Regions from separate parts of the Homo sapiens genome. Here regions 1, 3, 4, 5, 6 and 7 are each linked to region 2. A link means that fine-mapping ties the variant in region 2 to the plasma level of a protein whose gene starts in the linked region. Region 2 holds a variant in brackets. A gene starts in each other region. All regions are shown on their reverse strands.

Region 1 (4,063 bases), not on the chromosome of region 2:
GGTTTTAATCACACTGCTGTAACAACACCTGGATTGTTTTTGTGCAAGACTTTCAAAACTGACAGAAGGAGAAGAACAAGAAAAACTCAACTGAGAATGGAAACTCTTAAAAATATAGATTAAAATAATTTGGAGGGTAAAAGCAAATGAAATACTTTCCCAAGGATACCTCTGACAAAATTTGTAAAAAGAGAATTTCCTCTGGTACTAGAAAATTCATGTCCTCTTACTGGGCACTGGCAAATTTGAAAATTCCTCTTCTGCCTTTTGTAGAGCTGGGCGCACTGGGCTCAGACACATTTATCAGCTGCTATCTGGTGACTTCATCATTTTGGTGGAATTTCAAAGAACATTAATTTAGTTATTTAAAAACATACTTCAAATTTTTTTAAAACAATGTAATCTTTCCTTTGCAACTGTTTTTAGAAAAATGTCTAGAATTAGAAACGGCCAAATAACTTCACGATATTATTTTATTCTATTTGTGGTGTTCTTAACAGCTCCCACTCCTCAAAACAACCACACACATCACCAAAAAAATGCACCAATGACAATCTGCCACACTCCTCCCACAACTTGACATTATATGCACTGTACTGCTACCCTTTTCAGCCCGGGACAATGGAGTGTCCAGGCAAGAAGGAAACCACGGGTGACTATAACATTTTCCTTTAGATTTTGTGACATTGGCAAATATGCAGTTGCAACTACCATCAGTTACACAAGTAATGTTCATTTTTTCCTCTACAAGAAAAAAAAAAACAAAACCCAGATGTACTCTTTCACTCTAATTAGGCTTTCACTAATTTTCAGTAAAAAAGACTATGGTGACATATCCTGAAGAAGGAGGTATCCAATAAATATGCACCAACAAAAGAGCAGTGGAATTCCGCGCTGGGTACCGGAAATAGGGCAGCACTAGCGGAGGTGGGGAATGCGCTTCCAAGGGAGGCGGAACGCAGAGGGGATGCGAGATGGAGCCCGGGGAGCTGCCGCAGCGGGCGATGGCCCCGGCCGGCGCCGGCCGTTCTGGTTCGTGCATCTGCCGCTGCGGGTCGCGCGCTCTTACCTCGCAGCCCGCGAACCAGCCTCTCCGCCCAGGCCACTCGGGGCGGCTGCCCTTCCAGGGGGAGGTGGCGATGCAGCGGGTCCCCGCCGCCGACTGGGCTGGGGCACGGCGGGCCCTGGTCCTCTCGCCGGCGCCGCCTCCCGCTCGGGTGGCCCGCGCCGTGGTAGCCCCCAAGCCCCCGGCTCCGCGCGCCCACGGAGCTCACGGCCGAGGAGGCGGCCGACCTCCGGCTGCCCGGGCGCCACTCTACGTCCATCTCCACCACCATTCCGCCTTCTTCCCCTTCCACCTCCTCCTCCTCCTCCTCGGCCTCGAAGCCGGGGTTATCGCGGCTCCACGCCTGCCGGGAGCACGACGAGAGCGGAGGAGAAGGGGAGGCCGCGGCTCCGGCCGGGGGGTCCCGCGCGGCCGCCTGCCGGATGCGCTGCATCTCGATCTCCAGGCCCCGCTGCTCGCAGAGGCCGCCCGGGGCGGCGAGGCTGGCGCCCACGGCCGCGCAGCCAGCCATCAGCCGGCCCGGGTCCGGCGCGCGGGGCGCGGGCGGCCGCTTGGCGTCCCCGGGCTGCTGAGGCTGCACGCGACTGGAGTTCACCATCGCGGTCACTGGCGTCCGGCGCGCGGGTGCGCGGCGCCGCGCTCGGCGCTGTGCGCCTCAGGAGCCATGTTCCTTTCTTCCCGGCGCCCGCCGCCGCCTGCTCCCCGCCCCCGACCTCCCCGCGGTCCCGCGTCCTCTCGCCCGCCCCTTTGGCCCGCCTCCCTCTGGCCTCGCCCCGCCTCGCCCATCCGCCGCGGCGCGCTGAGCGGGGAGGTGCGAGGGAGCCGCCCCCGCGGTCTGCGCGCTCGCCCGGCGGCTCCCGAGTCCGCGTTCCAAGTGGAACCGGAGCCCGGGCGCGGGCGCCCACGTTCCATTCCCGGGAAGGCCTGGGAAGGGAGGGAATCGCTCACCCGCCAGCCCGCCTGCAGGGAAAGGGCTCCTGGAGCTGTCGATGCCTGCCCGACGCTGAGATAACTCTTGGGTCCCAGTTATCCACCAGCCACTTCTGCCTCGATTCACCAAAGGGCAGGGAAAGAACCTTTTGGTGAGATGGTGTGAATTAGCGACATCCAGCCTGAGCTGAAGTCTCCAGCGGGTCAAAGAAATCTTTCCATTTGCAAACTACCAAGGCTGACTTGCTGTGCATTTGGCGGGCCTCCTGCCCCTGATTCTGCTGGTTTGGAGATGCTTTCTCGCTCTTTGGTTGGCTTCTGTCTCCACACATTGTGGGGATCCCAGGGATTCGTCATAGGACTCTCGGATCGCTGGTGCCTCCACTGTGATCTCCGGTCTCCCTGCGGCCAGCACTGACTTCTAGCAACAGAATCCTGCATGAGGGCCTAGGCACAGAACTTTATTTCCACTCTTCTGAACACATCTAATGTGATGCTCTGCAATTGTCTGAAATTTATCCTACCCTAAGTCATTATCTTGTCCCCTTCTCTGGAACCTGCTTCACTTCCCGTATCCCAAGGTGAGGTTTGGGGCTTCGCTGTCCTCCTCACTTCCCAGGCCACTCTTCTTCATGGAAGCCTCGCGGTTTACCCTCCACCGCCTACACCTTATCTTCTTGTTACTTTTGCCCCACAGATATCACCCTGATATGATCTCTGTTTCTCACTCCTGCTGGCTTGATCTTATGTCTTGCATTATTCCGCATTAGAACAATTGATCCCTGTCAACTCCCATCTCTATTCTCCACGTCGGTGTCCTCACTATTTCCAGGTTATATTGCAGAACCAAAGCTGCTTATTTGTCACGTTGATGCTTAGACACCTCTGTGGGCTTCTGGCAGCTGAAAGGATAAAATTTAATTTCTGTGGTTTGGTTTAGTAAATTCTCATAATCTGCTCCTGTATTTGTTTGTTAGGGCTGCCATAACAAAGTACCAGAGACTGGGTGGCTTAACAGAAATTTATTTGCTCACCTTGTCTCTACAAAAAATACAAAAATTAGCCAGGCTTTGCGGTGTGTGCCTTTGGTCCCAGCTATTAGGGACGCTGAGGTGGGAGGATCGCTTGAGCCCGGGAGGCAGAGGATGTAGTGAGCCAAGATCGGGCCACTGCACTCCAAGTGACAGAGTGAGACTCTGTCTCATAAAGAAAGAAAGAGAGAGAGAGAAGAAAGAAAAAAAGAAGGAAGGAAGGAAAAAGAAAAGAAAAATTGTATTTTCTCACGAGGTGTTGGCAGAGTTGGTTTCTTCTGAGGCCTCTCTCCTTGGCTTGCAGATGGCCCCGCTTTTGTGTCCTCACGCCGTCTTCCCTCTTCCCTCTGTATGCGTCTGTGTCCTAATTGTCTATTCTTATACATCATATTGGATTAGGGCCTACCCTCATGACCTTGTTTTCACTTCATTACTTCTGTAAAGACCCTGTCTCCAAGTATGGTCATGTTCTGAGGTAATGGGGGTTAGGACTTCAACACAGAAATTTTTGGGGGGACACAATTTAGCTTTAACAGCTCTTAATGTACTCCTCTAGCATGGCATCCCATGCCATCCATCCACCTTAATGAATTATTCATTTGTTCTCTAGGCACATATAACATGCTGCTAATATTTAGGTAATTATGGCTACCTATTACCTGATCCTGCAGTTTATTAATTTAGATATTCATGTTCTTCTCTTAACTGTGAGCTTCTCAAAGGCAAGACTGGTGGGTCTGGAGCACAGCCCTAGCTCATGCTATTCATCAGTTCATTCTGAAGACATTTCCTGTGCCCTGAATTAAGGTCTGGGCATGTAGAGAGGAGTATGATACAGCCTTGGCCCTCAAGAGGAGACAGACCAAAAATGAGAGATTACCAAGTGGGTTAAGGGTTATGGTGCCTGTCATCCAAGGAACTTCTGAAGCTGAAGATGTCCTGAATAGCACCAGCAGCACTGCAGAGTCGAAGGATTCTTACAGACACATTCCAACAGAGGAGAGCCAGGCCTGGAAAGAGAATGCAGAATCTGAGC
Region 2 (4,074 bases):
CCAACCCCAGGGCTGCTTCATTTTACAGATGAGGAACTTGAGGCTCAGAGAGGTTCAGTGACTTACTCAAGATCCCATAACAAATAAGTGGCAGACCTGGGATACCAACCCCTTTTGGTTTGCTGTGAGGGCCCAAGCTCTCGATGGCTATGCTAAACTGTTTCCAAGGGATCTTAGCTATTAACCCAGCCTTTGCACTTTCTCTGGGAAGAAACTGAAGCCCAGAGAAGGGAAGTGGCTTCCCTAAGGCCACAGAGTGTGTGGAGCAGGTGTCACTACCCCACCCACTCCCAACTGTAACTTTTGTCACTTGAATGGGAAGATGCAAGAGACAGCAACATGCCGGCTGGACTCACAGCACATTGCGGCCCCTGTGCCAGGGAGATGCTGCTTATGATAAATTTGTTCCCCTTGTTCTGGCTTTACTGATGACAGACAACATAGTCTCATACTGTGGCTGCCTTTTTAATCTTCTTTACTTAATGGTCAAACCGCTCCAAACCCTGCTGACATATTCCTCTTGCTTCCCTCTTACCCTCAAGGTCAAGTATAAATCAGACTTGAACCTGACCAGAGGTGTTGGCTGGACCCCTCCTGGCTCCTACAAAGTGGAAATGGCTCGGCGGGCTGCGGAACTGGCCAACGCAAGGGGCCTGGGTCTCCAGGGAGCTTACGTGAGTAGCAAGCTGCAAAGCCACCCCTGGCTTGCAAGGCCATGGGGAAAGACAAACTCATTGTTTCTTTTCAAAGTTTATTTTTGGCCAAAGGTCAGCTAGCTCTAAAGAAGTGTGAAACGCAGCTCAAACAAGGCGCCTAATTTCATGGGTCTGAGATGACCAGGCAGATGACACGCAGGTTAAACTTCCTGCAGGGCTTTCTCTGAAGTCACAGCCATTAGTTCTGCAGAGGCAAACCTACCGGGGCTACATCAATCCCGGGCCAGGGCAGCCCAGGCTGTGCTGACTGCTTGCTCGTTACATTCGCAGAAAGGGTCAGGGACTCGCTGGATATGACAGTCTGCATTTTGAACCCTACTTTGTTCAGAAGAAAGAAGCCAGGTCTAAATGAGAGATTGGCTTTGCTTTCTCATTCCTGCCTTGAAGGCCCTTTTTCTTGGGGAGGGTAGAAGAGGGGAAAAGGAAAGGGAGGGTGAGCCTGTTAAATGCTCCCTGTGCTTCTTAGCGTGTCCTGTGGGAACCGGGGCCGGGAGTGGGGGTGGGGGAGCTTCATTTTAACTTGGGGTATGTTTGATTTCAGCAGCGGGGGGCAGAAGCAGTGGAGGCTGGAGATCATCAGAGTGGGGAGGTGAACCCAGATGCCACTGAGATTCTGCACGTCAAAAAGAAGAAGGCCCTGCTGTTGTGAGCCATGTCCACCCTGATTCCTGAGAGGCCAGAGAGGAAGTTTGTTCACCAGAGACAGGCTTCAGATGGCTTTGATTTCGGCAAGCTGGAATGGCCCACCAGCCCATCCCAGATCTTCCTTTATTAAAATAATAACTCTGAAAGCAGATGGAGAATGTTGTATTTGTGGTCCTCTCTGATACCTAGACGTGGATGGCTGATTCTGTTGAGTGCCTCGAGTGTCTGGGCTGAGGAATAAAGATGTGATGGTGGTTCCCGCTGATGCTGGGGATTCTGGAGTCTGCATTTGCAGGATGCCTGTGGTGGAGGCAGTCTCTGTGAACACTGATTTTCTAGAAGGTACAATTGGGTAAGGAAAGCAAACATACTATGTTGTGTTGATTCCATCATTCCTTGGGTTACCAAGGGAGGCAGAAGAAGCCTGGTGATATTGTGCAAATGCTGGTCTGGGAAGGCCCAGGCTGGGTGGCAGTTGTCTCTGCTTAGAGTAGGGATAGTCTACTGTGTGGTCCCCTGGAGGCTCTGGAGGTGTCCATTGTTGGCCATGAGGCCTCCCGGTGTCAGGGTGCCAAGGAGAGTGGGCTCTGAGGTCCAGAAGACAGTACCTTAGAAGCCACTTTCACTTTTGATGGTGGCTTTGATCCAATTCAGGAATTTGGTAACTTGGGTGTAGACCCCTGGCCTCTTC[C/T]CACACTCCAGGCCCCAGCTCACTATCCCATAGACGTAGTAGGTGCCGTCCTTCTCACAGGTCAGGGGGCCTCCAGAGTCACCCTAAGGGAAACAGAGGCATAAGCTCATCCTCGTGAACCAGAGACATCTGGAGATGCCCCCACCTCTCTCCAGGGGGTGTCAGGGAGGGATGGGGTGGAGTCCCTTGCCAGCCTCCGTGGGCTTCTCTGGAAAGCAGTGACAAGGCTCTCCCCACATCTCACATGATACAAGACTCTAAGGGAGAGAAGATAACAGTGTCCTCCGTCCCTGAGTCCACGCGGGCTTAACAGAGGAGCCGCACAGCTGCACTTCCCAACTCTCAGTGATGCAGATGTTATGACTGTGAGTTCTCGGGGGCCCTCAGCACACATAGGGGAGGAGGTTGGGGACTCCAAGGCAGCGTGGCCTAGGTGCTCAGCATGGTCTATGGGGTTAGATCTCCTGGGTTTTAAGCCAGGCCCTACCACCTGCCAGGCATGTGACCTTAGGCCTCAGTTTCTCACACTGTAAACCATAGATAGCAATAGATCCCCATCCCCCAGGGTTCTTGTGAAGATTGTTTGTAAAGTATATAGAACAGTGCCTGGTTCATATTAAACCCTCACGGAAGGTGGCGAGGATGATGATGGTGAGGAGAAGAAGACATTGAGGGTGATAGCTCTCAAAAACTTAATACTGCTTAAACACTACAACTGACAGGTTTTTAAAAAATGAATTCTCTATTTTAAACTTAGCCACGACCTTGTGATCTTATAGATAGATTTCCATTTTATAGTTTAGGCATCTGAGATTGAAGAATTGCTTTCATCACTGATAAAAGCCATACAGTAAGAGACAGAAACAGGTTTCAATTCACAACTATTTGTTTCCAAAGCCTGCAAGTGAAAGCCTTCAATTATCTAGGGAATTGAATGAGGTTTTTTTTTGTTTGTTTGTTTTTGTTTTTTTGAGACAGGGTCTCGCTTTGTTGCCCAGGCTGGAGTGCAGTGGCACCCTCTTGGCTCACTGCAACCTCCGTTTCCCACGTCCAAGCGATTCTCCTGCCTCAGCCCCAGTAGCTGGGACTACAGGCATGTGCCACCATGTCCACCTAATTTTTGTATTTTTCTTTTAGTAGAGACAGGGTTTCACCATGTTGGCTAGGCTGATCTTGAACTCCTGACCTCAGGTGATCTGCCCGCCTCAGCCTCCCAAAGTGCTGGGATTACAGGCTTGAGCCACCACGCATGCCCAGCCTGAATGAGCTGTTTTCTTAACCATCTTCTGGGAAGGAGTTTAGGGCAAATTGCACCCATCTGCCCCTCCTCTGAGTAGGTGAACATCCTTGGCTCACTGGGAAGAGACAGATAGTCACAGGAGAGCCACAAACCCTGGAGAGAGGAACCTTGATGTCCCATCCCAAAGTGAGTTCAAGGCCAGCAAATCATTGTGGGTTCCTTTGTACGGGGAGGCTCCCTGAAGGAGTTGGGATTTGAATGTTGGCATGCTGTTTTCCAGGACATTTAGAAGGCTTATGGGGACAACAGTCAGAAAATTCTAAATGGAGGTGTTCCTGGGATTCTAGAAAGGACCCTGTGTGATGTGATCCCTACAGATAAAGGGACTATGGGGAATGGGCTTTGACTTGGGGCAGGGCCTGAAGTCACTTTAGCATTGGTTGATGGAGCCACCACCTTCTCTCTCTGCAACAGTGTCTCTGAGTCACAAGCCTCAGCAACTTGGAGTTCTGAAAGGCCCTAGGCTACAGATATACTTAGTTTTCTAGGGCTAAAACACCCCCCCCCCCCCCACACACACACACACGCACACATGAGTCCTAATCATGAGTTAATATTACTGTGAAATCTCTAGCTCTAGGCCTTCTTCTTTCTCCTTCTAGCCACTGGTCTTCTGGACAGTTCCCTGTTTACTGGGATTCTCAGAAAGGCTGCCCTACACTGAGGCCACAAGCCCCTTTGGTGTCCTGCAGACTGTATTGTTCAAATCCCAGCCCTGCCAC
Region 3 (4,074 bases), not on the chromosome of region 2:
AGTGAAAATCTCAACACCTTGACTAACTTGTGGGGTTTAATTGTGGCAGAAAAACTTAAGAACAATGAAGGAAATGAATTGAAGACTGACACACTCCATGCTAGTTGCATGCTGAATACAATTTTAACCATGCTTGGGTGACAGGTCAACCCACTCTGGCTTAAAATTGTAAGAAATAAAATTCAACTAAGAACTAAGTTACAATACGTATTTCTTGTTGTCAACTCAGTCAATTTCAGTGGAAAAGACTTCTCTCCACAATGCTTCCACTGTGATGGGGTGTATCATAATCAACTCCAACACTTCAGACCAACAATTTTCATTTAAAGACATTTTAGACTCTACTGCATTAAACTGATGCAGAAAATTTGTCTACACAGTCTCAAAGTCCCTTATGGAATTCATTCAGCTAATTCAGAGACCAGATATGGCATACAAATTTTATATACTGATCAATCATACTTATTAGTATATAGATTACAGTGGTTAGAAATATTAGTCTAGCAGAAACTAATATACACACTACAGTCCAAATAAAAAGAATCCTGTCAAATAAGCTTGATGTAAATCCACATGAAAATCAAGGCTGCCAAAAAAAAAGGCTTTTGTTAGTCAAGCATACCAAAGAACTGCTTAAACCTTTTTTCCTTTCTAAGCGGAGCTCAAAATAGATTTTAATACTACAGCTGATGGATCTCACAATTTGCCTTTTGAGCCTATAAGCTGAAAACAGAATCATCTGCTGTCTCCCTTTACACAAGTAACAAAATCTCTCTATTCTGTATATCGCTTATTTAAGATACTGTGCAAGTGTGGTTTTAGTTAATCTTAACAACCCCCGCAATGACATTTAATTGGGAGTATGTATCTTATTCAGCTGCTTGTGAAAGGAAGAGCTCTTTGTGTTTTTAACTACTTGTTTTATAGATATATGAGAAACCCTCCTTTCCTAACTTTTTAACACACAAGGAGATGACTCCTAAGACAAGGTCATCTCTGCCACGACCAAAGACTAAGCTGCTCATTGAGGAAAGATGCTATTTTAGAGAGGGTTAAAACGTTAACCTTCCTGAGTCCCTGCCTGAAAGAATAATATCATGGCCCCAATGGAGTGGGTACCGCAGGCCTCCTGGCTAGAAGGTTCTTTAGCCCCATATTCTCACGGCTTTCTGCTCCTCTTGGTTCAGCTCACAAAGCAAATGTCTCCTCCTTTGACAGGCCTTCCCTGATCCCCTTCTCTAAGACAGCCGGCCTTCTATGCAGTCACCCTGTACCCCGTTAGGAAGTCGTTCTCTTCACAGCACCTGTCACTATCTGAAATTATTTGCTTTTGTGTTTGATTGCCCTATTCGACTCTAGGCCCCACTAAGGCTAGGATCTTGCCTGTCCTGATTAGCAAACACCACCTCCAATGCCTAAGCGGTGCCTAGCACAGAATAAGCTTGCCAACTCCTATCCAATAAATGAATGAACAGAAAGGGGAAAGGGGACTGTCATCTCTGGGACTCGACGCACACTGAGACTAGGGGAAAGGAAATGTGAAGGAGGGACGGGGGGAGTAACCTTTTCCCCCAGGGAGACAAAGGAAGAGAGTCTGAGGTGGTCCACTCCAGAAAAGGAAATAGTGGGGGTGCTAAATCACCCCAGGGGACAAAGAGTGGACAGGCAGGGGGCGGGGTCGGGGTGCGAGGGATTCGCGTTGAGAGCACAGACCGGCGGTCCCCCGGCTTGAGAGATCACCCGAGCTGGAGAACAGAAGGGAGGTGGGGGATCGAAGGGGGCTCCGACGCTGCGGCGAGAAACACGCCCGCCCCGGGGACAAAGGGTGGGGGGACGCAGTGCGTCGCTGTCCCATCGAATCCTCAAGCAGTAGGAGCGAGGCAGAGGGCAAGACCCAGAGGGAGTCTGGGGCCTGGAGGTCTGAGGGGATGTTCAAGCGGCCTAAGCGAAGGGCCCGCCACGCTCCGGGGCGCTCCCGCACCTGGTAAATGGCCGCCCAGCTCCCGGACTTGTCGATCTGCTCGAACTCCTTTTCCATCTCCATGACGGGCCAGGGCGGCTGCTGCGCCTCCTTCTCGGCCCACTGCGCCGTCTGCCGCTCTAGGCCGCGTCGCGCTCTTAGCCCCGAGGCCCGCTGCAATCCCCGACCCCTGCAGCTACCGCCGCCCTAGCCGCTGCTGCTTCTTCATGTCAACCGGCAGCCGGAACTACGCATCACGCCTGCCAGGGGCTCCGCCCCTGAAGCAGAAGGACCAATCAGCGATCGAGAATTTCGACAAGCACTTCCGCGGGGAGGAGCCGGGGGCGGTGCTAGGGGAAGTGGCCCCAGCACCGCGAGATATCTAATAGCGCGCGTTCCCTCCTCCGCTTTGGGGCTCTGGGCTCGGGCGCGGCGCGCGCCTGTTGCCTAGGCGACCCCGGGAGCCCCGCCCACGGCGCGTGGGCTCTCCAGGCCCGGGAGGGCATTGAGTTCCAGCCCCGACCCGGCCCGTTGAGTCACAGAGTGAGTGGCCTTAAAGTAGTCATGCACCTCCTTTCCTGCAGGGCCTGGGCCCCAGCCTCAGTAATCCAAGCTGGAGTATGGGAGGAGGGCACCGTGCTCTATTTCCTGCCTCCCAGCTCTGGCCAGATGTCTGCCCTTTTTTCATGAAACTCAGGAGTATCATGTTTCACTACGCTGCTGGGGAAGCCCACTGCTCTCTAAGGGTAGTGTCCCTGTCTGAAACGCAGAATTTCCACTTGGGTGCTGCAGGAATGAATGGATGGGGATGGAATGATTTTCAGTGTTTCCCGAAGTATCAAGGAACTCCTGCTCAGACTGAACTAAGCAGAGCACAAATTCCATGGTGCATTATGTTAAATAAAAATCATAGGAGCCCAGGCGCGGTGGCTTACATCTGTAATCCCAGCACTTTGGGAGGCAGAGGCAGGCGGATGTCTTGAGGCCAGGAGTTCCAGACCAGCCTGGGTAACAGAATCAGACCTCGTCACTACTAAAAGTTAAAAAATTAGCCGGTGTGGTGGGGCCCAGCTGCTGGGGAGGCTGAGGCAGGAAGATCACCTGAGCCCAGGAGGTGGAAGCTGCAGTGAGCTGTTTTGGCGCCACTGCACTCCACCTTGGGTGGCAGAGAGAGACCCTGTCTTGAAAAAAAAGGGCTGGGTGTGGTGGCTCACACCTGTAATCCCAGCACTTTGGGAGACCGACGCAGGTGGATCACCTGAGGTCAAGAGTCCGAGACCAGCCTGACCAACATGGTGAAACTCGGTTTCTGCTAAAAAAAAAAAAAAAAAAAAAAATTAGCCGGGCGTGGTGGCGCATGCCTGTAATCCCAGCTACTTGGGAGGCTGAGGCAGGAGAATCGCTTGAACCCTGGAGGCAGAGGTTGCAGTGAGCCAAGATAGCTCCACTGCACTCCAGCCTGGGCAACAAGAGCGAAACAAACAAACAAAAAAAGTTCTGGCATTAGGGTCTCAACAGACTAGACTAAAAATCAAAATGGAGTCACTCATGCTAAAGTTCTACATCATCAGACTGATAACCTTTCACAAAATCAGAAGAGAGATACACACCCTGATTTCCCAAGCAGACCGTTTTAATCAACATAATGAAGTTCCCTTTGCTTTAATCCTTACAACAAAAAGTAACCTGAAGTAACCCGATGCGACCAATCAGTTATTTCTCTCTTGTTCTGTTTCCCTGTTCCTGCCTTACAAGGAAAGTAACTTTGAAATGACCAATCTGCTTTTTGTTCTTTGTTTCTGCTTTTTTCAGCCCTTTTCTGTCTATAAAACCAACCTCCTCTGCTCAGCTCATTGGGACACTTGTGCTATTTTGAGGAATGAAGTCTTGCCCGATTCTAGAATCATGAATGAAGCCAATTAAGATGTTTAAGTTTGTTGTAATTTTGTCTTTTGACATTTACGGTCACCTGGGAAGTGTGTTGAATAATGCAGGTTCCTGGACCCATCGCCAAATGATTCAGATATCTTTGGTCTAGGGATGAGACCCGGAATCTGCATTTTCACCAACAACTCCAGCTGATTCTCGTACCTATGATCCTTAAAGCACCCATG
Region 4 (4,074 bases), not on the chromosome of region 2:
AAAAAAAGAAAAAAACAAAGATCCCCCTTTAAAAACCTCAGTTGGTGTTACTGAGAAAATACTAGCCTTCCTTGTCCCTTGGTTATCCTCAGCAATTTTTAATTTTTTCTTACTATATATATATATATCTCCTTCTAAACATTGTATTTTCAAACTGGTTATTGATGAAACAGAAAAACTAAATTGTGCATTCCAACTTATAATGAGTACCCTTCCTGAATTCTTATTTTAATGGGTTTTTTGGTTTTTGTTTTTGTTTTCAAAATAGGCAGACCTATCATCCACGGAAATGAGAATTCTGTCTTCCCTTTTCCAAAAATTGCATTTCTTATTTTTGTTTCCTGTCTTACTGCACTGGCTAGAACTTTCAGGTTTTAGGCAATATATTCTTATTATCTAATAGTGGTAGAAATGTACCATGTTTCTGATGTTAAGGGGAATGCCTCTAGGTTTTGGTGCAATGTTCATTTGAGATTTTTTTTTCTTTTTTCTTTTTGGCGGGGGGACGAGTCTCGCTCGCTCTGTCGCCTAGCTGGAGTGCAGTGACATAATCTCGGCTCACGGCAACCTCCGCTTCCCGGGTTAAGCGATTCTCCTGCCTCAGCCTCCCAAGTAGCTGGGACTACAGGCATGCGCCACCACGCCCGGCTAATTTTGTATTTTTAGTAGAGTACTGGGTTTGACCGTGTTGGCCAGGCTGGTCTCGAACTCCTGATCTCAGGTGGTCCACCCGCCTCGGCATCCCAAAATGCTGGGATTACAGGCTTATACCACCCTGCCCGGCCAAGATTCATGTTTTTATTTAAGTTATTAAAATCTCATTCAATTCCTCACAAATTCAGAATTTTTAAACAGGAACTTATGTTAAATTTTTATCAAATTATTCCCTGGAATCTTAAATACGCTTTAAAGATCACTTTGTCTTAAAAATACACACGCAGTAAATGACAGTCCGTGCAGCTAATTCTTGGTACTTCAGGGAAACTGATCTCCCAAGAAAAATCAGGCTGCGGGACGACCCAGTACGCTAAACACCGACTTGCAACCGAAATCTCTAACCACCACAATGCCTTGGGGAAATGCGTGTCGACTCGCCACCTTTGCCAGCTGGCAGTGACTCAACAAGAGCCCGACACCAAGTCTAAGTCAATCCTTAACACTGTGGAGTCTGTGATCGGGACTGGGATCTTTTGCAAAATTGTGATTCTACCTGGTCTGCTGAAGTTTGGGCCGACGCTGCGCTCAACTGCAGTTAACACTTCCCAGTTCATGGTTCAGTTTTAAAGTGTCCAAACTACGCCCGGCATCTGTCTTCCTGTTGTCACAACTTTTTCAAAAGTGCAAAACTAGGGCAAGGCTAACGAGAGAGCCCGGACCCGACAACGACACGCACCTTTGTCCCCAGCGCCGACGCGGGCCGCAGACGTCCCCCCGCGGCGGTCCTCATGCCGGTCCCCGGGCGGCGGCGCAGCTAGCGGTCGGCTGCTAAGCCGTGGCTCCCAGCGGGCGGGCGGCCCGCGCCTCGGCCCATGGCCGGGTCCCCGAGCCCAGGGGAGCCTGGTGTGCCGCGCCGCGCGCCGGCCCAGGAGGAAGCGAAGAAATGCCAACTCGACGTCCGCGCAGCCACTCCGGGGACACCAGGGGGTCGGGGGAGCAGCCTCCGGTCGCCCCAGGAGAACTTGCGGCGCGGGACCCCGCGCTCAGACGGCGCCTCCGAAAGCGGCCGTCGGGAGGAGCGCTCCAAAGAACACGGGCGGCGGGAGCGGACGGGCGCGGACACCGGGGCCTCCCGGCCTGCGGCCAAGCAGAGTTGCCGGGCGCGGGAGCCCAGACCCGGCGGAGGCTGAGTTCCAGGCCGCGCCGAGCTCCGTCAGGGTAGCTCACTGGCGCTGCGACGGGGCCGACCAGCGCCTCGGGCTCGGGAATGGCCCCGGGGCCCGCGCCGGACCAACGGGCGTAACGGAAGCGCCGAGAGGGGAGGGGCGCGGAGTCCAAGACCCGGGGGCGGGGCGAGCCGCGAGGCCGGCTCCCTCTCGCGCTCAGCCGGTCGCACCGTCGCCGCCGCCGCCGCCTCAGACCGCGGGCGCTTCGTTGTCACGAGCCGAAGGGAGGGGGAAGGAGCCGGGAGTCTCTGCGCTCCGGCGCGCGGAGACCGCGGCGCTCGCGTCACGTGCCCCTCGGTCGACCAATGATCCCCGGCGGGCGCGGTGACGTCAGAGTAGCGGCGTGGCCAGTGACAGCCGGCCCCCGTCACGTGGTCGGGCCCACTCCAATGGGCGGCGCCGGGGCGACTTGCTGTTCCCGGCGGCCCGTGCGTCGGCGGTGGTTGGGTGGTAAGATGGCGGCTGTGAGTCTGCGGCTCGGCGACTTGGTGTGGTGAGTCCGAGCGGCCGGGCCAACCGAGACGCGCCGGGGAGCTACCCGCCTGGGCGCGGGGTTCGCTGCCGGCCCTGGAGCTGCCTTTTTATGCGCTCCAGGTCGCGGAGAGAGGGGAAGAGAAGGTGCCGGCGCTTGCGAGCGGCGCCAGGCGGAAGGGGCAGTCCAGTCCCGGGGGACCGAGGCCGAGGGTGGCCACGTCGGGCACCGGCTTTGATCCCCGAGGCCGGCCGGGTGGGGTCTGCACTCGGGGCCCAGATACTGGCGGCCCCCGTGAAGGGAGCCGCCGGTGCCGCGAGGCTTCCCCGGACGACCGGTCCCCGGGGTCTTGTTGGGGCTTCCCAGAAAGCAGAAGCGCCGGGGACCGGACCTGCGAGATCTGGCCGGTGCCATTCGGTCAAAGCCCAGGTTGCGATGCAGCCGACCTGTGCGGCCGGCTCAGCCGGGGTTGTCTAAACCGGACTGCTGGCGTTGCCCCGCGAAGAAACGGCGGGGGGACTTCTCCTTTACAACCGATGGCTTGGCAGTGACCAGTGCACGCTTGGGTGCCTCCCGCGGTCTGCTTCTGTGTCCCAGACAACCGCCCGAACCAAGACTTTGTCGCCGCCTCCCTCGAGCTGCGTAGCTTGTTTCTCCACCCAGAGGAAGGCTTCCATTAGCATTTGTCAAAGCCAGGCAGGTCTCCTGTTGAATTAAACCAGACTTAGGGAGGGAAAGTCTGTGTTTACAGAGGAAGCTGTCCTCCCACCCCCGTCATTAAGAAGCTCTAGACAAGTGACTTTTGACAGTTGTGTTGTTCTGTATTCCTTGTCAACAGAAGAATGGATATGCGTTGTGCACATAAGTATACAATTTTGCATTTTACTTCTGAGGGTGTTGGGCCCAGCTATGAAAGCTTTTGTTTCGGCATTTGAGGATGCCAGCAGAGATTTAGGAAAATAAATTGCGTATTGAGTGGGTTGAAGGAGATGGACTGGCTTTTGCAGGGCAAGTGTTGACTCTTTGTGTTTTCTCTAGGGGGAAACTCGGCCGATATCCTCCTTGGCCAGGAAAGGTGAGTGTCTTGCTACTAAAGGAAGAGATCTGAAGTTGGGTTTGAAGAGGTGGAGAATGTAAGATGCATTCCTCTCAGTTTCTAGTATTGAGTTAAATTGGGCTCATTCAGATGGCACTTAGAATTTTTTTTCCCCTAGTATCGGTTATTTTTTAAAAGGCAATGCAGTATACACCAGATCATTAAATCTTCTCTAAACCCTTATTTCTGGATTTAGAGGAGGTTTATGAAGTTTCTTTTTTAACCCCGGAAATAATTCTAGTCTGAATTTAGCTTTATGCTTAAATGTAACAAAAGGAGAAGAAAATATAAATTATCCAGGAAGAAAGTCTAAATGTAGGTTAGTGAAAAGCCAAAGTATTTTTGTCCCAACTAAGTTTAAATCTTCTTTCCATGTTACCATATGTGCTACTCCAGTGCCTCTTTGCAGAAGTTGGCATTCCAGATTTTGCATGAGGTGATCCATCATTGCTTTCCAAATGTTGTGTTTTTATATTCTTGCTTGGAGCCCGGGAGGTGTCTTTAGATGGTCTCTTTGCAATATGGTGTTTTCTGTGCCTCGGTTGTCCTTTGTTTTCACTATGTCCTGTGTCAACCCTTCCTGCACAGGAAGTATTTCAAAGAGTGTCGTCTGCATTTTTTCA
Region 5 (4,074 bases), not on the chromosome of region 2:
GGCAGAGGTTGCAGTGAGCTGAGATCACACCACTGCACTCCAGACTTGGTGACAGAGAGACTCCATCTCAAAAAAAGAAAAAAAAAGAAAAAAAGGGCCAGGCATGGTGGCTCACGCCTGTAATCCTAGCACTTTGGGAGGCTGAGGCGGGCAGATCACCTGAGGCCAGGAGTTTGAGCCCAGCCTGGCCAACATGGTGAAACCCTATCTCTACTAAAAATACAAAAAAAAAAAAAAAAATAGCCGGGCATGGTAGTGGGCGCCTGTAATCCCAACTACTTGGGAGGCTGAGGCAGGAGAATCGCTTGAACCCAGGAGGCAGAGGTTGCAGTGAGCCGAGATCGCGCCACTGCACTCCAGCCTGGGCAACAGAGCAACACTCCATCTCAAAAAAAGAAAAGCAAAAAAGCAAAAAAACAAAAAAACAAAAAACAAAAAACAAATTCAGGCTGGGCATGGTGGCTCTCGCAGCTTTGTAAACACTCTTCAGTCATTAAAACACTAAATAATACAGTCCCCCAAACCAAGGGGGAAATCCTGGTACAGGTAGTTCGCAGTGGAGAGGAGGAGGAGGTACAGCATAACCCAGGAAGAAGCAGCAGCCCCATGAACCGGCATCTCCAAGTTTGTAATTGCTTTGATTGGCTTTTAGACCCAATATTTAATTCAGTTATTTTGTTAAAGTTCCAGATGCAAATCTCATGACCCCCTATCATGTTATGCTCATCATGAAGGCGTCAGGGTTAAAAAGCCTGAGAAAGTCTGCTTTAGTCAAAGAAAAAGTCTTTCTGGGAGTATTTCTGTCATGGGTCCGTATCCCTGCCTCCCCACAGAATTGTCATTTTTCCCTTTTCTCCTGCCCTGCTTCCCTGTTCTACAACACAGCTGGTCAAAGTCTCAGGAGAAATGGCACATGTCTGTAAGTCCCAGCTACTCTGGAGGCTGAGGTGGGAGGATGCTTAAGCCCAGGAGTTAAAAAAAAAAATACTAACAAATTATTGAAAGAAGGGAATGAGTGAGACCTGGAGGTGGGCAGACCAAGGTTCAAGGCCCAGTTCTGACACCAGCTAACTGAGCACTCTTGGGCATGTCGCCTCCCTGAACTGGGCTATCTGTGAGACATGGAACACCGCAGCCAGGGTGATGTCTGGCTCAGGTCCTCCGTAGCTAGTGAGGGACAGATGCCACCAAGAGAACCAAGCATGCTCCCCCAGGCTGGCAGAGCCCCAGAGATCTAGATTCAGCAGAGAGCAACTCCAAACACACCTCGAAAGTAGGATTAAAAAAAAAATTGGCTACCTCAAAGACTGGATACTCTAGGGACACTCCCATCTTGGTCACCAACCGCATACCAGGGTGCCAGGCATGTAAATTACCGTTCCTCCCTCCAACTACCCTACGGGCACAGGCAGGATCAGAACCCCGCACCTCCTGACTCCAGAGCCCAAGTTTCTGGCTCCTGGGCTCTGTCGCTGTGTGGCAGTGTCCCGGGGTGGGGCTAGGACGCAAGCAGGGTTGGGAGAGAAAGGCGCCCGTCCCGCGTCCCGCGCCCCGCGCTTGCCTGTCGGGTTGCGGACGCTCCATCCGGCCGGTGCTGGGCTCGTTCGTGCTGGCTCCGCGGGCGGCGGCTGCGCTGAGGACGCTCGAGAGGAGGCAGGCGTTGACTGCCGGAGCCGCGGCCGGTCACATTTATGCTCGGCGGGTCACGTGGGCCAGGCGGAACAGCTGATGCCCACTTTCTGGCCGGGCGTTGCAACACCCGCAGGGGCCCGCGCCCAGCCCGCCCCGGGCCAGTGTGGGGTGGAGAGGAGCAGTCATATGACCCTTGGGAAACAAAGTCTGGCCATAGGACTTTTAGAGAAAACACACACACACACACACACACACACACATACACACACACACACACACACACACACACACAAAACCTTTAAGGAAATCTGAGAAGCTGCAGGCTCTGGGTGTGATTTTGCTCCTTCCAGAGCCCCCCCTTCTGCTCCCTGTCCCCTTGGGACTTGATGCACCCCAGGCGTCCCAGAAGGTTCCAGAAAGCTGGGAGGCAGCGCTGCTCAGAGCAATAGCCTGGTGGGCAACATCAGGAACTTAGCAACCCCAGGCTCTGCTGTCTCCAGCTCCCTAAAATGTCACCTGCTGGAATCCTCTGCTGACTGCTTGCCTCCTCACACCCTCTTTAAATGTACATTTAGGATCTGTTTTTTGAGTTCCTGTCAAAAAACAGAGACTCTAGTATTTTCATGGTTCATCCCTACAACTGACCTGTGAGGGTAGATCGCTTCTATTTTACAGATGGGGAAACCGAGGCTCAGAGGGGTGCAGTGGTGTCACACATAAAGCAGGATGCCAGTGTCCAAACCCAGGGAGGAGACTAAGTCCCCGCCTGCCTCCTCCACACTCTGGCAGCACCTGGTATCCGCCTGGACTGGGACACCTGTCATACAAACTGCTTCCCTGCTGGAATGCGTGGGACACTCTTCCAGGCACATTCAGGTCTGACTTATACTCAGTGCCTGCTCAGGGCCCAGAGCAGAGCTGGCCCTTGCTGATCGCCTATTGAATCAATTCTGCATGAGGTGGACTCCTTAGAACTCGGGGGAAATAGGGTCACTGGGTGAACCCAGAGGACAAAACGAATGGACCAGATGATTCATACAGTCCTTTCCCAATACTGTGATTCTCATTCTAAGATTTTTTTTTTAAGATGGCTTTCAGGCCTGGCATGGTAGCTCACACCTGTAGTCCCAGTACTTTGGGAGGTTGAGGTGGGAAGAGCGCTTTGAGCCCAGTCGAGGTGGGAAGATTGCTTTGAGTTCGAGACTGGCCTGGGCAACATAGGGAGACCCTGTCTCTACAAAATATAAAATAAATTAGCTGGGCATGGTGGCACATGCCTGTGGTCCCAGCTACTTGGGAGGCTGAGGCTGGAGGTTCACTTGAGCCTGGGATGTAGAGGCTGGAGTGAGCTGTGACCACGCTACTGTATTCTAACCTGGGCAACAGAACAAGACGCTGTCCCTCAAAAAAAAAAAAAAACAAAAAAAAAAAAAAAAAACTTCCTGGAATTCAGCCTAGGGCCACTACAGCCCAGAGGCACTTCTGAGATTGTATTGGAAAGGATCATCCTCCCAAGGGTGAGCTAAGGGGCCTTGAAAAAAATTCCCCTTCTTCCTCTGAAGGTTCCCCGAAAACCAACCGACAAAAGTCAGGTTAAGAGGAGAAAAGACATACAAAAATGTATTGTAATGGGGTAATCACGGAAGAATGGTGACCCTGTAACCCAGTGGAGTACAGAGGCTACCCAGCCTTTTTTATAGGGGAGAAGGGAGATAGGGAATGCAGACAATTCTTTTGAAAGACAGTAAATCATTAGCAAGAAGGAATGGCCCTGGAGGTGAAAGGCCGACTTTAAGGGAAGGTGGAGGTGGAGCCGCACAGGGACAAAGGTTGTCCTAGGCAGATAAAGTCCCCCAGGTAATCTCTTGGCACTGTCCTCAGAAGAACAGGTAAATCTGTCTGGGTCTGGTGATGACTCCCAGTCTCTTTCTCTCTCCAGTGGTTGATCTTTCCTGGATATTTGATGAGATTACTAGAAAAAGGGCTTAACACTGGCCGGGCGCGGTGGCTCACACCTGTAATCCCAGCACTTTGGGAGGCTGAGGCAGGAGAATCGCTTGAACCCGGGAGGAGGAGGAGGTTGCAGTGAGCCAAGATAGTGCCACTGCACTCCAGCCTGGGTGACAAGAGCGAGACTCTGTCTCAAAGGAAAAAAAGACTTAACACAATTGCATTTCTTTTGTAAAGAAGTGTTCTTGGTCAGATAAGGAAATTCCAGAGAGCGTCTCTCCCTGTGCTTGTCGGGGGAACAAGACAAGCTTACAGGGACCTTGACTCTGAGGCAGCTCCTAAGGCCTCTCATCATGTCAAAGCACCAGTTGTCCTGGTATCACTTTCTGAGCCCCAACAGTGGCATGTAAAGCACAAAGGTGGAGACCTTGCCTACTACTTTGCTTTGTAAATTCCCAGTTCCTGGAATAGTGCCTGGTAGGTCACAGTTAA
Region 6 (4,074 bases), not on the chromosome of region 2:
CTCATGGCCTCATTAACAACAATGGTGCCAAGATGCGGACTTTTAAGTGACTTTTACTTTATAGATTCTGAAAACCCACAACTTGCTAGTTGTGAGTGACAAGCATCTTTCTGAGAACTTTCTGAAAATTCCCCACTTCCAAGTTTACACAGCCTTTAGTAGACTTAAAAAAGAAGAGAAAAATACCAAACAGTTCCTTTGTTGAGAAAGCAGCCTACATATAGATCTGATTGTTCATGGTATGTTTGAGTCCACGAAGTAGAAATGAACAAAAATTATTGCTTAGTTTTCCTGATGTCAAATCAGTTTTGTTTTAAAAATGTCATTAGTAATTTATTAGGTAAAATGTTAGCTAAGCTAACTCTAGTTAATTTACAAAGTTTTGGCTTCATTTTGTTATGATGAGACTTTATAAACCTGATCTTTAAAATAAGGTTCTTAAAATTTTTAAAAATTTATTTTATTTATTTTTTGAGACAGAGTTTCGCTCTTCTTGCCCAGGCTGAGTGGCAGTGGCATGATCTCAGCTCATTGCAACCTTCACCTCCCAGGTTCAAGCGATTCTTCTGCTTCAGCCTCCCGAGTAGCTGGGACTACAGGTGCTCGCCACCGTGCCCAGCTAATTTTTGTATTTTTTTAGTAGAGATGGGGTTTCACCATGTTGGCCAAGTTGGTCTCGAACTCCTGCTCAGGTGATCCAACCGCCTCGGCTTCCCAAAGTGCTGGGATTATAGGCGTGAGCCACGGCGCCTGGCCAGGTGTTTTTTTTTTTTTTTTTGAAACGAATCTTCTTCTATTTCACAAGTGGAAATCATCCAGGAAATGTGCACCTCAAGGGAAATCCAGTGAAATCTTGATTCTGGGTAGAACATATGAGAAAAGAATAGTGTAGCACTCACTGCTTGGCTATTTGGGATAGGATCTGTCTTAGGTCCCCATAAGCGCTTTTATTTCTGTGTAATTTACTGCAAAACTCTATGAGGTAGGACTAATATTATCTTATGTCAAGGGTTAAGACAATTGAGACTTGGGGGTTTGTCAAAAATAAAAGATTTTCTGACTTTGGAGTGCGATGTGCATTTCTGTTGCACAGATCTCCACCAAGGGCAAATTCGATGGCAATGACAATTTGATGTCAGAACTTCTCAGGAAAGGCTCTGATGAACTCATTCACACTGCATGTGAATGACTGAGAAAACTCGATGTATTTTCACTTTTTTTTTTTTAAGAAGTAAACCTGGGTGTTTTGTAGTTCTATGAGAAAATGAAAGCTGAAGCTAGGCTATAGATGAAAAGTTCTATTCATTATTACAATTTAATAATGCTTCCAAAATAGCAATTCACTTAAATATACCTAGTTAGGGTGTTAAGAAATACTTTGATTAAAACCACACTGCAAAATAGGGAACTTCAATGGACTGCTTTAAACTCTCGACCTCAAAGGAAGGAAATCAACTAACCGATAATGAAAACTAGCAGAAAAAAAAAAGCTTAGGATCCGTAACAGATTCGGAGTCAACAATGACATGACTCAGCATTTTGGGGTTCAATTAAAACCAGGCTTGTAGGTTGCAGGTCAAGTTGTGTTTCGGTGTGTAACGCATAAAACTTCTTGTTCCACGCTCCGCGGTGTTGGGGATTTTCTACTGCATCTCGACAGCATCTCGGGTAACAACCGAGCCCCTCCTCGCAGCGTAAGTCGTAGGAGCCCTCGGCCATTCTTCCCCCTCCCTCCCGCCGCCGGTCCCAGCATCGGTCCGGGTTCGCTTCTACGCAGGTTCAGCGGCCGCGGACACAAAAGCGCCCCTGCTCGCCTTCGATGCCGCTGCTTGGTCCAGGGGCTTCTGTGGGATTTTAACACGCTAAGGAGGGCACTCATAGTGTTTTACCGAGAAACGCTTTCGAGCTCGGATCTTTGGTGATCACTTCAAGAATGTATTAGTTTTCTTTGTAGCTTAAAAAAAAATCTCGTTCGCCAAGCCACCTGGCACCCCAAACACTGCTGCGAGCGCTGGGAGGGAAAGGGCGGGAGCGCGCGGGCTCCGTGTGCTGCGAGGGCGCCTGGGCGGCTGAGATAAGGCGGTGGCAAACGTCGCGCTCCGGGCCGCCCCGCCAGACTCGGTTTCCCCCGCTCACCGGCCTCCCCGCCCCCAGGCAGGGTGGGGCGGGGCGGACGCGCCACGGCGCGCGACCAATCGACAGCGCCGGGGATGATTCAAAAGGTCGAGGAGCCAATGGGAGCCCCGGGCGGCCTCGCCGGTGGGGAGGGGAGGCGAGGGGAGGGGAGAAGCGCCGCGAGGCGGGGCCGGGGAGGCGCGCGCCCGGCTTGCGGGACTGCGGGGCGCGAGAGCGCGGCCGGGTAGCGTCGCGCGCGTGGATCTGCCGCCGGGTTGCTGTGCGACTATTCTCCGGGAGCCGTCCGTGTCACCGCCGGAACCTGGCGCAGGTGAGTGCTTCCACCCCCGCCCTGCTCCCAGCTCCCCGCGGCGCGTTCTTCGAGGGGCCGCTGGGGGAGGAAGCCCGAGGCCGGCGCAGCGGCCGGGCCGGGGACCCTGGGCGCGGGGCCTGGCGCGGCGGCCTTCCCCTCCTCTCCTCGCCTCCTCGTCTCCTCCCCTCCTCGCCTTTTCTGGCCCAGTCGGGTGGTCGGGGCGGCGGCGGGCGAGGCTGGAGCTCGCCCGAGCCGGGCCCGCTGCGGAAATGGAGCTGGGGGTTTTAAACTGCGGACGTTTCCCTCCATGTTGGCGGCGCGGCGCGGCTGTGGAGCGGCGGCGGCAGGGAGGGTTCGTGGGCGCCTTTGTCCTGCCCCACCGCAGCCTGGCTCCCGGCCCCTCCGAGCGCCCGTCTGACAGATGAGCAGGCGGCCCCGCGGTCCTGCAGTAGGAGGCTGACAGGGCGCGGCGGCCTGGCGGGACGGGGAAGGGTCTGCGGCCGAGGTGGGCTTAGATTCGCGCTGCTTGTCACTGGCTTTGAGGGTCGTGGTCGTCGCGGTTTGGTGATTCTCCAGGCACACTGCATGGCTGCTCGCTCCTATGCGTTGAATTCCTTCGCCCGGACAGTCTCAAAAATCGGGTATTTAGGCGGGTGTGCGTGTTCCTGCTAAAGCACGGTCCTGCTTTTTCACCTTTTTGAGGGTTCAGAAAAATGTTCTAATGACAGCCAGCCTCGCACTGCCAGTAGCCTCAAGGGGCACTTAGTAAAGCACTTGCTTTCGGAGGGCTTTGTTGAAGGCGCTTTCCCAGAGTGATTACGGGGCCCGGTCGGGTGTTCACACGAGGGCGCGGTAGATACCGTGGTCCGCGCGTGGACACCTGCAGCGCGAGGCGCGGCGCCTGGGCAGTGCCAGGGTGAACAGGCCCCCGGGGACCTTGCACGTAAACACGTGTAGATCTGTAGTTACGCATTGTAGTAACTGGTGTGTGGGAGAAGATGGAGCTACGGAGAAGAGCAGAGGGATCCTAATTTAGATTAGGCAACAAGTCCAGTTTAAGTTTTGTTTCTCAGGCTGCCTGGGAAGAGGGAGAAGAACGAGCAGGAGGGGAATGATGAGCTGCCCAAGGATGTTTATGGGGAAGAAGGCGCTTCTGCCTTTACAGCCAGGAAGGTGGCCTTTCTGTTGCTTCATGAAGCAAAGGGCGCGGAGCAAGGCCCGGGGTTCCTGTTTGCATTTTGCCTAGTGGGGCTACCGGGGCTCAGGTGTGAAAAGGAAGCTGTCCAACGTCATTCGAGCGTCTTGCTCTATGCCACGTTTAGATGAATTTGGAGAAGTGAAGGAAAGATGGCTGGAGACCCCTGTAATGTTAATGAGCAGAGAATTGTTGTGTTCACAAACAGTAACATACCGGAGCTGGAATGTGTGAGGATTGCAGTGCCAGTTGACTCTGAAGTTAGCGGGCATCTGGCTTAATAGAGAAAAACCTGAGGGTCTCCGTGTTTTTCCTGTTTATGGCGAATGAGGACATTGGGTGCAGTGAACAAAATTTTTCTTTACAAACACACTTGCCTAAAACATCTCTTGTAAGAAAATCCTGTGTGTATCTTGACTCCTGTAGGTGAGTGCATAGTGAGTGACACGAA
Region 7 (4,000 bases), not on the chromosome of region 2:
GTGAAAGGGGCAGCATAGTCATTTAAACTTGATCCAACCTCTTTGCATCTTACAAAGTTAAACAGCTAAAAGAAGTAAAATAAGAAGGCAATACTTGTGGAATGTACAATGCATATTGGCGGTGCACGCCTCATTACGATTCGCTTGCTTGCTTCTCCTGTTCAATCGTTTCTTTGGAAGGCAGTGGATTTTTCTCTTGCATCTCTGTCTTCTTCAGTTTCGACTTATCGAATTTCTCAATCTCAGCCATATCGGGTTTGTCAGACATGGTTGCGGAGGAAAAGCGGAGCGAGGCATGCGAGAACGAGCGAAGTCTGGTCTGCGCAGTGGCCACCACCGAGTTGTCCTGAGACGTGTTCTAAGAGGCTTTTCTAGCCAAAACATGACAGTTCACTCTTCTGACATCCAGGGTCCCTAAAACCGGATGGCCTGGGGGTGGGTACTGACTTAAGAGCCTCTGGCTCGCTGGCAGTGGTGGCTCACACCTGTAATCCCAGCACTTTGGGAGGCCGAGGCAGGCGGATCATGACGTCAGGAGTTCGAGACCACCCTGACCAAGATGGTGAAACCCTGTCTCTACTAAAAATACAAAAATTAGCCAGGCATGGTGGCACACACCTGTAACCCCAGCTACTCAGGAGGCTGAGGCAGAAGAATTGCTTGAACCCGGGAGGCGGAGGTTCCATTGAGCCGAGATTGTGCCACTGCACTCCAGCCTGGGAGACAGAGCGAGACTCCGTCTCAAAAAAAGAAAAAAAAAGTCTCTGGCTCGACTCCCCACCCAGAACCCAGGGAGGTTCTGTGGATGACCAGGCCAAGTCAAAGGGGCAGCTCCCTGGAAAAGGAGCCCTGCTTGGTCCCTGCCCATAGACTCAGGTATCGCAGTGCGTCTGTTGGTCTATAGAGGGCGACCCAGAAAACGAGTTAGAGCCTGGAAGTGCTTGAAAGGTGACCGCCCAGGGGGCAAAGCTGATTGAGGGAGGCGAGGAGGACCTTGAAGACACCACCACCCATCACACAGACACACACAGCCACTCGGATGAATCTTTGGGGTCTAGGGCTTAGGGGAAGGCGAATGACTTGACTGTGCTTCAGGGGCTGGGTTGAGCTAGGACTCTTGGGTTCTATTCCTGGAGCTTTGAGGACTCGATCAAGGGGACATCTGATGGGACTGTTTTTCTCCGAGTTTTCCTGTTCTTGGGAGTAGATGAAGGTCACAAATGTGAAATGGCCTGAGAGCCTCCAAGCCAGGAAAAGGGAATGGTCTGGACCACAAGAAGCCCTGGGAGACCATCTCCCCCTCCCCCTCGCGAAAAGCAAAAGCCGGGGGCGGGGGAACTGAACCAGAGTCCTCAACCCCAACGCCAGGGTCCAGGGTCCTCAGATCTCTGGCCTCCCATAGCCCGCCATAGCAGAGGGGCAGGAACCTGTCCTGGAAGGCTGGGGCAAGAAGAGGCCAGAAGAGGGTGACTAGTTCCCTCGGGCCCCTGTCCCGGGTCACGCGTGCCGCCCTCGCCCCTAGACAGCAAGGTAACAGTGCGTCTGTCGGGGAAATAGCGCCGCAGGGCGCGCCCCCCACCTGGGGTCCGCACCGCCACCTCGCCCGACTCGGCCTGGCACATGTCCCCACCCGGGAACCCACCAGCCCGGTCTATGCTCACCCGGCGTCGGCTCCGCCGCGCGGCGCCCCGTCCAGATGCGGCCCGGTTGCAGCAGCGTAGACAGCGTGAGGGGCATTAGCCGCCCCTGGACGCACGGAGCCGGGTCTCAGCAGGGTTTAGCCGGCTCTGCGCCCTGCATGGCCCGGCCGCCCCGCCAGCCCCGCCCGCCGCCCGGCCCCGCCCGCCGCGCTCCTACCCCGCCCGCCTCCCGCACCCCAAACCTGCTGTGCCAGGCCGCAGCACCGCCTGCCGCACCTTCCCCGAAGCCGGCAAGCCACAGAGCCGGCGGCGCAGCGCAGCCCCAGCGCGCCTGACGCCGCTCGGCCCCAGCCCGCCCTGCTCGCGCAACGGCTTCGGGCGGCGCCGCCGCGCGGCACGCTGGGAGTTGTAGTCCACGCCGCGCGGCCCCACCCAGCCGAGGAGACCCCCGAGTCCGCGAGGAGACAGGCGGGCTTCACCCCGGCCCTTCCTCCCTGCCGACCCCGGCCCTTGCCCCCTGCTGTCCCCAGCGCCCGGATGTAGGAAGAGCACCCCAGTCCACACCACAGCCGAAAACCCGGAGCACGCTCTCGGGCCCCGGCCGAGTTCAGCAAACACCCAGCACCACACCTAGAAGCTCGCTAAGAGGGCGGTTTCAGGCAGAGGTGAGCGGGGCGGCCGGGTTCCGCAGCCGGCTCTGTGGCGCAATGGATAGCGCATTGGACTTCTAGCTGAGCCTAGTGTGGTCATTCAAAGGTTGTGGGTTCGAGTCCCACCAGAGTCGAATTTTGATGGCTCCTACTCCCTGACTTTCACCTGCGTGTTTTAAGGACTCCAGGACCTATCTAACAAATAAGGTTCAGAACGAAAATCATAAGTCACACCCAACTTTGCTGCGACACAGCCATAAACCTGGTGTCTAGGTGACTACGAGAAATCCTTTCTCGTACCATGGTGTCTTGTGAGCAGCCTGGCACACCTGTTGGCACAAAGGACACGGATTTGGAGGCCCTTAGTTAACTTCACCATCTATGATCTCTGGTCCCTGCAACAAATCAGTTAACCTATATTTGTCATGCCACCCTTATTTGTCATGCCACCTCCAGAGCCATAGGCGAGTGGCCAGATTCTCGGCCCTGTTGGGACTCTTGGCCTCTGAAAAATTGGTTTCTTGTTAAGTAACCATGTTGGGCATCCACAGTTGCCACTTGTCCTTAAACATTAATAGATCCCTGGGAGGCTGAGGCAGGAGAATTGCTTGAACCTGGGAGGCGGAAGTCGCAGTAAGCCGAGGTTGCGCCACTGCACTCCAGCCTGGGCGACAGAGCAAGTCTCCATCTCAAAAAAAAAAAAAAAAAAAAAAAAAAAAAAGATTCTGGGACTGGCGTGGTGGCTCAAGCTTGTAATCCCAGCACTTTTGGAGGCTGAGGCAGGAGGATCACTTCAGCCAGGAGTTCAAGACCAGCCTGGGCAACATAGTGAGACTCTGCCTCTACAGGAAAAAAAAAAAAATTAGCCAGGTAGCTCTTGCTTGTACTCCCAGCTACTCAGGAAGATGAGGTGGGAGGATTGCTTGAGCTCTGGAACTTGGGGCTGCAGTGAGCTGTGATTGCACCACTAAACTCCACCCTGGGCAACAAAGTAAGACCGTGTCTCAAAAAATAAAAATAAGCTGGGCACAGTGGCTCATGCCTGTAATCCCAGCACTTTGGGAGGTTGAGGTGGGCAGATCACATGACGTCAGGAGTTCGAGACCAGTCTGGCCAACAGGGCGAAACCCTGTCTCTATTAAAAATACAAAACTTAGCCGAGCGTGGTGGTGCACGTCTGTAATCCTAGCTACTCAGGAGCTGAGGCAAGAGAATCACTGAACCCGGGAGGCAAAGGTTGCAGTGAGCCGAGATTGGGCCACTGCACTCCAGCCTGAGCAACAGAGCAGTGAGAGCCTGTCTCAGAAAACTAATAATAATAAAAATAAAGATGAAATTTTGGTCTGATAAGGATTTGGACCTATTTCTTCTGGAATATAGGGTGCCTCCTTTTGGGGACTTGAGTAAATTCCAGCACCACATCCTTCATGGGTATCACCATCAGGAGGCAGAATGTGCAGTGGTATGGGCATGAGCATTGAGTTCGCCTTCTCAGCTGAAAGGTCAAGATTCATTTTGTTCTTACATATAAAAAATGGGACATACTAATTAATAATACCTCACAGGGTCAGCGTGGAGATTTGTGGGGAGTATTTTTTTTTTTTTTCCGAGACGGAGTCTTGCTCTGTCGCCCAGGCTGGAGTGCAGTGGCGCGATCTCGGCTCACTGCAAGCTCCGCCTCCCAGGTTCACGCCATTCTCCTGCCTCAGC

Direction of the effects. Alleles are on the strand shown, and positions count from the first base shown. The strength of an association depends on the size of the effect and on how common the allele is.
With allele C in place of T in region 2, the plasma level of the protein whose gene starts at base 1,763 in region 1 is higher (moderate association).
In carriers of allele T in region 2, the plasma level of the protein whose gene starts at base 2,189 in region 3 tends to be lower than with C alone (weak association).
In carriers of allele T in region 2, the plasma level of the protein whose gene starts at base 2,316 in region 4 tends to be lower than with C alone (moderate association).
With allele C in place of T in region 2, the plasma level of the protein whose gene starts at base 1,662 in region 5 is lower (moderate association).
For the plasma level of the protein whose gene starts at base 2,362 in region 6, allele C in region 2 goes with a higher level than allele T (moderate association).
For the plasma level of the protein whose gene starts at base 1,973 in region 7, C is the high allele of the variant in region 2 and T is the other (weak association).

What was found. PIP is the posterior inclusion probability: the model's chance that the variant is causal. The UK Biobank Pharma Proteomics Project read protein levels with antibody pairs (Olink). The fine-mapping took linkage between variants from a reference panel, not from the people measured, so its PIPs are less certain.
Region 1: PKD2 starts here. The variant in region 2 is fine-mapped to the plasma level of the PKD2 protein (UK Biobank, PIP above 0.99).
Region 3: PTPN1 starts here. The variant in region 2 is fine-mapped to the plasma level of the PTPN1 protein (UK Biobank, PIP above 0.99).
Region 4: it holds the start of GLYR1, and the variant in region 2 is fine-mapped to the plasma level of the GLYR1 protein (UK Biobank, PIP above 0.99).
Region 5: HMOX1 starts here. The variant in region 2 is fine-mapped to the plasma level of the HMOX1 protein (UK Biobank, PIP above 0.99).
Region 6: it holds the start of LBR, and the variant in region 2 is fine-mapped to the plasma level of the LBR protein (UK Biobank, PIP above 0.99).
Region 7: SLC27A4 starts here. The variant in region 2 is fine-mapped to the plasma level of the SLC27A4 protein (UK Biobank, PIP above 0.99).

The regions. Positions count from the first base shown.
Region 1 is chr4:88,005,335-88,009,397 of GRCh38, reverse strand. It overlaps PKD2 (polycystin 2, transient receptor potential cation channel), which reads right to left and starts at 1,763. Exons shown (of 15, transcript NM_000297.4): 1 at 1,070-1,763. The coding sequence starts at 1,664. RefSeq lists silencers at 881-1,020, 1,071-2,000.
Region 2 is chr10:113,586,266-113,590,339 of GRCh38, reverse strand. HABP2 (hyaluronan binding protein 2) reads right to left here. Exons shown (of 13, transcript NM_004132.5): 13 at 738-2,135. The coding sequence ends at 1,971. It overlaps NRAP (nebulin related anchoring protein), which reads left to right. Exons shown (of 42, transcript NM_198060.4): 41 at 543-674; 42 at 1,261-1,626. The coding sequence ends at 1,365. Among named protein-coding and RNA genes, the nearest start is that of HABP2, 35 kb to the right of the region's middle. The variant C/T (reference allele first, on the strand shown) is at 2,053.
Region 3 is chr20:50,508,498-50,512,571 of GRCh38, reverse strand. PTPN1 (protein tyrosine phosphatase non-receptor type 1) reads right to left here and starts at 2,189. Exons shown (of 10, transcript NM_002827.4): 1 at 1,982-2,189. The coding sequence starts at 2,044. RefSeq lists enhancers at 2,116-2,215, 2,428-3,015 and a silencer at 2,326-2,555.
Region 4 is chr16:4,845,530-4,849,603 of GRCh38, reverse strand. It overlaps GLYR1 (glyoxylate reductase 1 homolog), which reads left to right and starts at 2,316. Exons shown (of 16, transcript NM_032569.4): 1 at 2,316-2,376; 2 at 3,394-3,430. The coding sequence starts at 2,339. It overlaps UBN1 (ubinuclein 1), which reads right to left and starts at 2,123. Exons shown (of 18, transcript NM_001079514.3): 1 at 1,394-2,123. RefSeq lists silencers at 1,443-1,532, 1,543-2,262 and enhancers at 1,315-2,157, 2,453-2,512, 2,813-2,872.
Region 5 is chr22:35,378,684-35,382,757 of GRCh38, reverse strand. HMOX1 (heme oxygenase 1) reads right to left here and starts at 1,662. Exons shown (of 5, transcript NM_002133.3): 1 at 1,562-1,662. The coding sequence starts at 1,584. RefSeq lists silencers at 1,392-1,561, 1,862-1,941.
Region 6 is chr1:225,426,326-225,430,399 of GRCh38, reverse strand. LBR (lamin B receptor) reads left to right here and starts at 2,362. Exons shown (of 14, transcript NM_002296.4): 1 at 2,362-2,446. RefSeq lists a silencer at 1,946-2,775 and enhancers at 2,608-3,279, 3,280-3,952.
Region 7 is chr9:128,338,500-128,342,499 of GRCh38, reverse strand. SLC27A4 (solute carrier family 27 member 4) reads right to left here and starts at 1,973. Exons shown (of 13, transcript NM_005094.4): 1 at 1,662-1,973. TRR-TCT3-1 (tRNA-Arg (anticodon TCT) 3-1) reads left to right here and starts at 2,334; the gene lies at 2,334-2,424. It also overlaps the pseudogene TMSB4XP4. RefSeq lists an enhancer at 631-810 and silencers at 1,447-1,846, 1,917-2,326, 1,955-2,596.